3 linked regions of the Homo sapiens genome follow. The protein of the gene in region 3 purifies or fractionates together with the protein of the main gene of each other region. This does not show direct contact. Each region holds a gene or a part of one and is shown on either strand. Other genes may lie near its edges.

Region 1 (3,600 bases), on a different chromosome or scaffold from region 3:
CAGTGGGCTTAAAATATTCAGTAAACCATGCTATGAACAGTTGTGCTGTCATCCAGGCTTTGTTGTTCTACTTACAGAGCACAGGCAGATTATATTTAGCGTAATTCTTAAGAGACCTAAGATTTTTATAATAGAATGGTAAACAAGCACTGGCTTCAATCCAAAGTCACTAGCTGCATTAGCCTCTAACAAAAGAGTGAGCTTGGCCTTTGAGGCCAGACATTGACCTCTCTAGCTATGAAAGTCCTTGATGGCGTCTTCTTCCAATAGAAGGCTGTTTTGTCTACATTGACTACTTGCTGTTCAGTGGCCACCTTCATCAACGATCTTACCTAGATCTTGGGGATAACTTGCTGCAGCTTCTCCATCAGCATTTGCTGCCTCATCTTACACTTTCATGTTCTGGAGACGGCTTCTTTCCTTAAACCTCATGAAATAATCTCTTCTAGCTTCAAACTTCTATAGCTTCCTCACCTCTCTCAGTCATCATAGAATAGAAGAGAATCAGGGCCTTGCTTTGGATTCGGTTTTGGGTTTAGGGGATGCTGTAGCCGGTTTTATTTTCTATCCAAACCACTAAAATTTTCTCCAAATCAGCAATAAACTGTTTCGCTTTCATATCATTCATGTGTTCATTAGAGTAAAATGTTTAATTTCCTTCAGTAACTTTTCCTTTGCATTCACAAACTGGCTAACTTTTTGGTGCAAACTTTCAGCCTAGCTTTCAGCCTATCTTGCCTTTTGACATCCCTTCCTCACTAAGCTTAACCATTTCTAGCTTTTGAGTTAAAGTGAGAGATGTGCGACTCTTTCTTTCACTTGAACACTTAGAGGCCCATTGTAGGGTTATTAATTGACCTAATTTCAACACTGTTGTGTCTCAGGGAATAGAGACCCAAGGAAAGGGAGAGAGAAGGAAGAACGGCCTGTCAGTGGATTAGTCTGAACACACACAACATTTATCAATTACGTTTGTATCTTATATGGGCACAGCTCATGGCGCCCCAAAACAATTACAATACAAGGAACACTCATCACACGTCACCCTTGTAGCAGAGCACATCTCCCTATGATCTAGGTACGAGCATTGTACCTAGGATGGACGCGTTCGTCCTCTTACCTTCGGGAACGCCCTACTCTGTCTACGGAGTAAAGTACTTAATAAACTTGCTTTTGCTTTGCTATGCGGACTCACCCTGAATTCTTTCCTGTGCAAGATCCAAGAACCCTCTCTTGGGGTCTGGATCGAGACCCCTTTCCGGTAACGAAACTACACTAAGAATACAAGAAAACTTACGTTACTGTGCGGGAGCTGACAAAGTCTCTCGCCGGAGGGAGCACACAGAATTTCACCTTCTCCGGCCTTTTCCCAAGCTGGCAGGAGTAAAGCTGTAAGAGGAGGTGCCAGCGCCCCAAGCCAGCTCTCCCGCCGGCACTGCTGCGGTCCGCGAGGCAGCCAATCAGGTAGCTGAGTTTGCCATAGGGGCGGGACTTCCTCCCCAGCGCGCACGAGTACGTGCGTGGAGGTCCCGCCCCGGAACTGCAGTTGCTGCTGCAGCTGAGGTACAGCGGCGGTTTCTGAGGTTCTTCACTCGCGACTGACGGAGCTGCGGTGGCGTCTCCACACGGTGAGTACCAAAACGAGCGGGGTTGGAGCCGACTCTGGAGAGGGGCTGAGGCCAGGAACCCGGGTTCCTATCGCGGGTCGCTCTGGGCCGGTGGGTTCCCGGGTCCAGAGAGGGCGGCCGCCGGCCCAAGCCGTCCAACCGAGCTGCGTGCCACGGTCCCCGCGCCTTGGGCTCCTTGTCCGGTCATCAGAGCCTGACGGCCTTGGCTTCTCGGCTTCTCGGTTTCTCGGTTTCGTGCGCGCGTTCGTGCCTGAGACAAAGCGAGAGGGCCGCGCGGGACCGGCGTCACGAGGAGACAGAGGCCCTTCTACTCTGCCTGGCGCTCTCCGTGTCCTCGCCCGGTTCGCGTGGCACCCCTCGCCCTCTCCTTGTTGAACCCCGCGTGTTTCTTTGTGTTTTTTTTTGTTTGTTTTTTGTTTTTTTGCCGTGGCGCAGCGGGTCCGGCGGGCACTGTGTGCGAACGTGCTCTCCTCGCCGGGCGCCATGCTCAGCGGTTTTTTTTGACGTGCGTCACTTTTTCGTAGTGGCGTATAAGGATTCTGTGGGACAGATGTCCTCGTTTTTCCCATTGTGCAGACTGGGAAATAAGAGACTCAGAGATTAATACGTCCACCGCAGAGCCACAGCTGACAAGTGGTGGATCTGGATTTGAACCAAAGTTTACCTTGGTCTTTTTCACGGAATCTGTTATCTTTCTTGGCCTTTCTGAAAAGGAAAAACCTGGATCGAGTTCCACCCAAACGAGTTGGGCCTAAATGGCCATTAAGCCACTTAAAATATGATGAAGAAACTGGATGGGTTTTAAGACGCTTGGCAAAGGAAAGGATGGTGGAGCAGGCATTTGCTCTCTCAGGCAAGGCTTGAGAAGGAAGCAAGCGCAGTACGCTTTTAATAAAGCTCACCCCTCCTGCCCCCACAAGAAAAACCCCTGAGATTCTTACTCTGCCTTCAGAACGACTTAGGTGTGGCAGGTTTCATCCTCCGTGCTTTACATAATTTTCTTTATTTACATAAAATGTACAACTTAGATATTGTTAGGTACCCTCCCCCCTTTTTATAGATGAGAGCACTGAAGTTCAGAGAGGAGTGGGTGGCACTATCCAAGGTCACACAGGCAGTAAGTGTTGGATTTGGAATTCAAACCAGGTCTAGCTCATATGTCTTTGTTCCATCACATGTGTACCCTGTGTTCCAGGCAAAGCTGTCTGTTCTGTGGTATTCTTTGTTCTTCTCTAGGTGGGAGCAACTGTGTGATAGCCATCTTTGTATCCTCAGTTCTTTGTAGGGCCTAGTTGCTTAGAAAATATTTGTTACATCAGAACCCTCTGCTTCTCAGACACCAACCTAATAGAACATGTATCTCCTTTTCAGCAACCATGAAGTTGAAGGACACAAAATCAAGGCCAAAGCAGTCAAGCTGTGGCAAATTTCAGACAAAGGGAATCAAAGTTGTGGGAAAATGGAAGGAAGTGAAGATTGACCCAAATATGTTTGCAGATGGACAGATGGATGACTTGGTGTGCTTTGAGGAATTGACAGATTACCAGTTGGTCTCCCCTGCCAAGAATCCCTCCAGTCTCTTCTCAAAGGAAGCACCCAAGAGAAAGGCACAAGCTGTTTCAGAAGAAGAGGAGGAGGAGGAGGGAAAGTCTAGCTCACCAAAGAAAAAGATCAAGTTGAAGAAAAGTAAAAATGTAGCAACTGAAGGAACCAGTACCCAGAAAGAATTTGAAGTGAAAGATCCTGAGCTGGAGGCCCAGGGAGATGACATGGTTTGTGATGATCCGGAGGCTGGGGAGATGACATCAGAAAACCTGGTCCAAACTGCTCCAAAAAAGAAGAAAAATAAAGGGAAAAAAGGGTTGGAGCCTTCTCAGAGCACTGCTGCCAAGGTGCCCAAAAAAGCGAAGACATGGATTCCTGAAGTTCATGATCAGAAAGCAGATGTGTCAGCTTGGAAGGACCTGTTTGT
Region 2 (3,600 bases), on a different chromosome or scaffold from region 3:
GGCAAATCCCAAAGGTTTAAGGCTCAAGGCAGTTAGCTAATATGGTCTTTGACCTAGCCTTGGCTACATGGGATGACTGATGTTAAAGCCTTGATGCTGAATGTTAAAGTAGGTTCAAGGGGAAAAAAAAAACAGCAAATTCTAAAATGCTTCTGGATGAGAAAGGCTAGCACAATGCTGAAACTAAACTGAGTCTATTTGCTAATTGCTATTAAGTTAATTTCATTGGTTAATTCTCCAGCATAACCCCCTCTAGGATAAACCTGGCCCCCAGTGAAAGGAAGATAAACCCTGTAAACCACGCAATCAACAGTGCCTCTGATACTCAAATGTACATCCTAGTCACCTACAGATCTTATTAAAATAAAGGTTCTGATAAATTACATCTAGAGTGAGGCCTGACGTTCTGCATTTCCAACAAGCTCCCAGGGGATATTATGCTGCTGGTATGCAGACCACACTTTAATGAGTATCAAGAGCTTGGACGACATTGCAGAGAATAGATCTACAGACTTAAAACCAGAGTTAAGATATCTCTTGTTCTTATATTCCCTAACTGCATAACTTTAGATAAGTCATTTCACCTCTCTGAGCCCTCCTTGTTTCATCTGTGAAAATAATATAGTTAATACAATAATTAATAACATAGTTAATACTAATAGCTAACACATACTGAGTTCTTACCATGTAGCAGTAACTAATGTTTTATGTTTGTCAATTTATAAATAAGGCTTAGATCAAACATCCTCTCCAAGTAATGGTGACCTGATACCTGATTGTAGGCCGTTTGACTCATACTTAACACCATGTAGCACTTACCTCCCAGAGCCTATGAAAATGAAATAATAATCGGTATTTGGCTAATTTGTACTGAGTACTCATACGCTCCAGGCCCTCGTCTAACCCTCCCTTGGACGATATTAACTCATTTATCTTATAACCACCCTAGGAAGTATTATTATCATTATCTCGCAGGCCTTAAAACGGCCTCAACAAGTAAAATTGCTGAAGGACCAACAGTGGCACAGTCAGGATTGGAACCCAGGCAGTGTAACTGCAGAGCGTGGCTTAGTTTCAGCACTGTACTAGATTAATTGAACTAGACTAGGTTCTGTAACTGCAGAATCCCGGATCTCCGAGTCAGCTAGCTCACTAGGGTCGGTGCACACCCGCGCCCACTCGGGGTGGCTTCATTGCCAGAGCCACTGACTCCCAAAACAAAACGAATCTTCTACAATTAGCTCTATGTGTATCTTTGGGATGTTATCTTTCTCGGGCCACAACTAGGAACCCTGAAAGCCGACTATGACTCCAGTGAAACTATTTGGCCCTAAGAAGGGTGATTGTCTAAACATCTTCACAACGGATTTACACTGAAATTGTAACACGCACTTGATTGGAACCCCACACCACAGGCAGTCCCAGGAATTTGTACCCGCCCCGGTCCCGGACCGCGCCCCTGGACAAACCCTCCGGCCCGCCCCTCCGGATTGAGCCCCAAGACTGTCCCCGGACCACCATCCTAAGACCACTCCCTGAACTGCCCCCCCCAAGACCGCCCCCTAGATCGCCCCCCGGGACCGCCCTCTCTAGACCGCCTGCGAGACTGTCCCCGGACCGCCCCCTGGACCACCCCCTAGGCGGCCCCCCGAGCTGTCCCTGGACCGCCCTCTAGACCGCCTCCCGCCCCCTGCATCCTGGGAATCGTAGTCCCAATCCTGCTCTGGAACTAGCAGTGCGGCCTGCTCGGGCCAGCTCCGCCTCTATCTGGCGCCAGCCTAAAGGTCCCGCTTCTAATCCCATCATCTCTCCATACCGCCCTCTGCCGGCCTTTCCTCTGGTCGCCCGGATTGCGAGCCGCTTCCGGACGCTCCGGAAGCGAACCTTTCTTTTCCGGATTGGGCATCCCGGCATCTGCACGTGGTTATGCTGCCGGAGTTTGGGCCGCCACTGTAGGAAAAGTAACTTCAGCTGCAGCCCCAAAGCGAGTGAGCCGAGCCGGAGCCATGGAGGGCCAGAGCGTGGAGGAGCTGCTCGCAAAGGCAGAGCAGGACGAGGCAGAGAAGTTGCAACGCATCACGGTGCACAAGGAGCTGGAGCTGCAGTTTGACCTGGGCAACCTGCTGGCGTCGGACCGGAACCCCCCGACCGGGCTGCGGTGCGCCGGACCCACGCCGGAGGCCGAGCTACAGGCCCTGGCGCGGGACAACACGCAACTGCTCATCAACCAGCTGTGGCAGCTGCCCACGGAGCGCGTGGAAGAGGCGATAGTGGCGCGGCTGCCGGAGCCCACCACACGCCTGCCGCGAGAGAAGCCTCTGCCCCGACCGCGGCCACTTACACGCTGGCAGCAGTTCGCGCGCCTCAAGGGCATCCGTCCCAAGAAGAAGACCAACCTGGTGTGGGACGAGGTGAGTGGCCAGTGGCGGCGGCGCTGGGGCTACCAGCGCGCCCGGGACGACACCAAAGAATGGCTGATTGAGGTGCCCGGCAATGCCGACCCCTTGGAGGACCAGTTCGCCAAGCGGATTCAGGCCAAGAAGGAAAGGGTGGCCAAGAACGAGCTGAACCGGCTGCGTAACCTGGCCCGCGCGCACAAGATGCAGCTGCCCAGCGCGGCCGGCTTGCACCCTACCGGACACCAGAGTAAGGAGGAGCTGGGCCGCGCCATGCAAGTGGCCAAGGTCTCCACCGCCTCTGTGGGGCGCTTTCAGGAGCGCCTCCCCAAGGAGAAGGTGCCCCGGGGCTCCGGCAAGAAAAGGAAGTTTCAACCCCTTTTCGGGGACTTTGCAGCCGAGAAAAAGAACCAGTTGGAGCTGCTTCGTGTCATGAACAGCAAGAAGCCTCAGCTGGATGTGACTAGGGCCACCAATAAGCAGATGAGGGAGGAGGACCAGGAGGAGGCCGCCAAGAGGAGGAAAATGAGCCAGAAGGGCAAGAGAAAGGGAGGCCGGCAGGGGCCTGGGGGCAAGAGGAAAGGGGGCCCGCCCAGCCAGGGAGGGAAGAGGAAAGGGGGCTTGGGAGGCAAGATGAATTCTGGGCCGCCTGGCTTGGGTGGCAAGAGAAAAGGAGGACAGCGCCCAGGAGGAAAGAGGAGGAAGTAATAGTTTCTAACTGTCGGACCCGTCTGTAAACCAAGGACTATGAATACTAAATGTTAAGTTCTAGGCAATTATACGGGGACTCAGAAGGACCTGGCCGCTGCCTTCATTGAGTTTAAAGGGACAGGATTGCCCTTCCGTCAAGAAAGTATGTAAGTGTTGGACTGCACAAATTAATGTTTTTCCCACAACCGAGACTTTGGAGATTAAGAACTTATTTGAGGATTTAAGAATTAGGGAAATAATTTGGTGGAAACCGGGAATGAGTTCTATTCTTAAACAGCCTTTTTTTTTCTTTTTAATGTTGGATATACGGCGAGGTAGAGTTGGCCATATTTCAGAGACTTAGATTGACGTATATGTTTCTGCATTATTTTTACAACAAGTTTGTGTATCAGAGCGGGAGTGCGGGGGAGGGAAAGAAAACAAACAGTTTCAGAATTGAATAGGCAAGTGACTGTTTTAAAGATTAAGTAATAAAGATGTCTTATCTAGTGTG
Region 3 (3,945 bases):
AATTAAAGAAGTTGAAGAGCACTGGGAAGGGTACAAAAGGGACCTCAATTCTACCTACAATCTATCTTTACGACAACTAACAGATGATGGATGTGCACCCTATCCCCCACATGCTAAATCAAATAGGTGTCTATGGCTACAACCAATTAAAGTTTATGTGCGGGGAAAGAAAAGAAAGTGGGTCACTCCTCCACTATTGAAACAAGCTATGTAAAGCGTTTTCTCATTAGAAGGCAGGTATGACACAAATAGTAATTATACTTATATAGTGTTTATTGTGTACCAAGCAATCCTCTAAAGACTTTATATTTAACCTTTGACTAAATACTCCCAGGAAGTTTTACTTATATTTAACAGATCACAACACTGAAACATGGTAAGGTCATATCACTCTAACTAGTAAGGTGTAGAGCCTGACCCCAAACCTCAGCAGTCCAACTCCAGAGTCCTCACCTTTAACTATTCACTATATAAACCTTTGCTATTATAAGGATGCTTGTACCAAAGGCTAACACAAGAAAATGTATAAACCTGGGCCTCATACTAAAGCTCATTTACCAGGACTGTCAATTTAATGTAAGGATTTGGAGAAATGTAAAAAACAAACTTTTACAATAATACTGATTTTGCTCCTGTAGCTGTTTCAGATTCTAAACCTCCTCCACTCTCCTTTTTGGAATGAAATCTGATAAGCAATAATGTATGCGTGAACGTGCTCTTTAATGTCAAGGATAATACACATTTGAAAAACAAAACATTAAATCCAACTGCAAAAATCTTACCCTTTTACTTCTGGACAGCCTGAACCGTGTCACAGTGCCAAACTGGGAGAAATATGAAAAGATCTGGGTTTCGTCAAGTAGGTTAGGTAGGTGGCGCACATAGACTACTCCAGGAGTAAGTTGTTCTTGTTTTTTTCGCTAAAGACGTAAAGACCAGGTAAATTAAATATATAAATAAGAAAATCACATTGTAACAAAACCCCTAGCCCTCGGCCCAAGAACCTATTCTGCATTTCCACTTACCACAGTAGTAATTAAAGAACTGGCTGTTTAGTGTTTCTCTCCCCACAAAGGCCATGGTCAAGCAGTAGTCAACTATCTTTCCAGCCTGGCATCCCAGCACCCAGTATAATATTAGAGCTCAATAACTATGTCAATCAACGGATAAGCAAGGACATCTTTGAACAAGCCATTTTAGATCTTCTGCCCAGAGAACTCTACATAAACGTAGGCTTCAATTTGGTATGCATATTACTGTTTACTCGCACTTCATCGAAAAATTTTCGATACGCTTGTTAACTCTCACGGTACAGATTAGCCTTTCAACGTCTCAGTCATCATAGCCTTACCTCTGTAACAGGAACTTCTAAGTTTTCCTGTGTATTTTATGCTAAAAACCACAGAAAGTATAAGCGATGTCAGGGGCCCTAGTCAGCAAGTGGAACCTGGCAAATACTCTATTTTAATAACTCCCAGATCACCAACCCGGCATACAAACTTCCCGAATGTGTTAAGTCTGGGGCTCCCATTTTTGGGGGAAACGCGGAAGCGTGACAGCTCTAACCCGGAGATAACCTGTGGTATAGGAGCCTATTCCCTCCAGCTGGTTCTTTCTACTGCTTCTGTCACCCCAATACTTCCCCGTTACCCTCCACATGAAGGCTCCAGGGCCTCAGCGGCCAAACCCCTCCATCATTTACCGAACAGCGTAAACCCTTTCGTCTCGGAAACCGTGGCCTGCAAGCTTAAGAGGTCGGTCCCTGATTCGGTCGAATCCACTTGGGAGACCCTGGAGGTAATGAAGGCGAGCACGAAGGCAAGGGGCGCCCGGGCCGGAAACCGTGCAACCCCAGATACCCTCTAGACCCGGTCCATCGCCCCCGCTCGCAGCCTGGGCCAGGGTGCCTGCTCACCTGGGTTATGCGCTTGCGAACCTGCGCCACCTCCTTTTGAAACTCGACATCTTCCTGCGGATTAAGCGACAGGATTGGCCCAGCCGGGCCAGAAAAAGTCGCCATGCCAAAAGCCGCCGACGCTAACCACGCGGCGCTCCCGGAAACGTCGGGCTCCCAGCTCCCCCGAGGCGGAAGTAGAGGCAGGACAGGGGCGGGGCGAAGCGCTAAGGCGAGGCGAGGCGTGGCGAGGGGCGGGGAGGGCCATGAGTCGGGCGCGGGGTTGGAGCAGGAGTTGCCCGGAGAAGCGGGGGCGGGGCACGGGGTGTGGCGAGGCGCGGGGCGGGGCATAAATTGCGCCAGGGGCGAGGGCGGGGCACGAGGTCGTGCCGAGAGACTGGGAGAGGCGTGAGTCGCGCGGAGGCGCGACATGGGGCGTGACGAGGAGCGGAGGGCGGGGCGTGAGTAGCGCCGAGGCGCGGAGGCGGGGCGCAGGGGCGTGCCGAGGCGCGGCAGCGGGGTCTGGGGCTGGGGCTGGGCCGTGGGGAGCTCCCGCACCCTCGGCTGTCGGGGCGCCGGCTGGCTTCGCTTAAGAGTGCCTGAAACAATTACGTTCACGCCTACTTTCAAAAAAGGTCTAAAATAAATTCCAAAACAGTACCTGTGTCCTTGAGATGCTGCTCTCATTCCTCAATTTGCTTATTATTATTATTATTTTTTTTTGAGACAGAGTTTCGCTTTGGTTGCCCAGGCTGGAGTGCAATGGCGCAATCTCGGCTCACTGCAACTTCCAACTTCCGCCTCCCGGGTTCAAGCGATTCTCCTGCCTCAGTCTTCCGAGTAGCTGATTACAGGCGCCCGCCACCACTCCCAGCTTAATTTGTACGTTACCACTCCCAGCTTAATTTGTATGTTTAGTAGAAACGGGGTTTCACCATGTTGGCCAGGCTGGTCTCGAACTCCTGACCTCAGGTGATCCACCCGCCTCAGCCTCCCAAAGTACTGGGATAACAGGCGTGAGCCACCGCGCCCGGCCCTAATTTGGTTATTCTTTCACTCACTTGTGTGTGAGCTCTCCTGTGTGGCCCCGTCCGTCCGCGGCCCTTGGAGAACTTACAGCCTGAGGGCAGCATGGCTGCTTTAAGAGACCAAAGAGGCTTGTGGGGGAGAGGCACACTGGGTGGCGCCGGAGGGTCCCCCTTAGGAGGTGGCGTTAGCACCGAGGCCTGAAGGCTAAAGAGCGGGGTGTGGAGAACCGAGCGCCTGCCGTCCGCTGGACCGGACAGGCCTGCACAGTGTTCCTAGGTCTAGAAAGAAGGACGCGGCAGTGGGGTTGGAGCCCAGCACAGGAGGGAAGAGCTGCGAGGCGGCAGGCTGGAGCCCCATGACTGTGTGTCAAAGTATGAAACTGGGGTTTTGTAAATGCGAGGGGATGGGCGGGTTTAAAGCGAGGCTGTGGCTGTTTGCATCTTTCTTTTCTTTTTTTTTTTTTGAGACGGAGTCTCGTTCTGTCGTCCAGGCTGGAGTGCAGTGGCGCGATTTTGGCTCACTCACTGCAACCTCCGCCTCCTGGGTTCAAGCAATTCTCCTTCCTCAGCCTCCCGACTAGCTGGGACTACAGGTGCACACCACTACTCCCGGCTAATTTTTGTATTTTTAGTAGAAACGAGGTTTCGCCATTTTGGCCAGGCTGGTCGAGAACCCCTGACCTTAAGTGATCTACCCGCCTCGGCCTCCCAAAGTGCTGGGATTACAGGCGTGAGCCACCGCACCCGGCCTGTTTGTACCTTTCAAATACTATTATACTAGTGAGTAACTGAGTGGAGAGGAAGGGTGGGGAGTGGATTGCCGAGGAAGCAGGGAGGTGAGGCGAGAGCGACAGATCAAGCACAGCTGGTGTCAGGGGATAGCTGCGGCCGTGTTCTGGAAGCCGTGAAGGCGGCCCAGGGTGTGTGTGCCCGAAGAGTGGCCTGTGGGCCTGAGGTGGAGGCCCTGGGAGGGAGTGCCAAGCGAGGCCAGCCCACTTCCTCTGACAGACGTGCCTCCCACGC

The links.
Region 1: the proteins of NIFK (region 3) and DDX24 purify together in Homo sapiens (affinity purification with mass spectrometry; 5 studies listed by BioGRID and IntAct, with this or other methods). This does not show direct contact.
Region 2: the proteins of NIFK (region 3) and RRS1 purify together in Homo sapiens (affinity purification with mass spectrometry; 5 studies listed by BioGRID and IntAct, with this or other methods). This does not show direct contact.

What each region holds. Positions count from the first base shown.
Region 1 is NC_000014.9:94,079,147-94,082,746, reverse strand, and holds the start of DDX24 (ATP-dependent RNA helicase DDX24), read left to right. Parts: upstream 1-1,544; 5' UTR 1,545-1,628; intron 1,629-2,999; 5' UTR 3,000-3,004; coding exon 3,005-3,600. UniProt on the Homo sapiens protein: ATP-dependent RNA helicase that plays a role in various aspects of RNA metabolism including pre-mRNA splicing and is thereby involved in different biological processes such as cell cycle regulation or innate immunity.
Region 2 is NC_000008.11:66,427,126-66,430,725, forward strand, and holds the start of RRS1 (ribosome biogenesis regulatory protein homolog), read left to right. Parts: upstream 1-1,888; 5' UTR 1,889-2,006; coding exon 2,007-3,104; 3' UTR 3,105-3,600. UniProt on the Homo sapiens protein: Involved in ribosomal large subunit assembly. May regulate the localization of the 5S RNP/5S ribonucleoprotein particle to the nucleolus.
Region 3 is NC_000002.12:121,734,831-121,738,775, forward strand, and holds the start of NIFK (MKI67 FHA domain-interacting nucleolar phosphoprotein), read right to left. Parts: upstream 2,046-3,945; 5' UTR 2,021-2,045; coding exon 1,916-2,020; intron 921-1,915; coding exon 783-920; intron 1-782.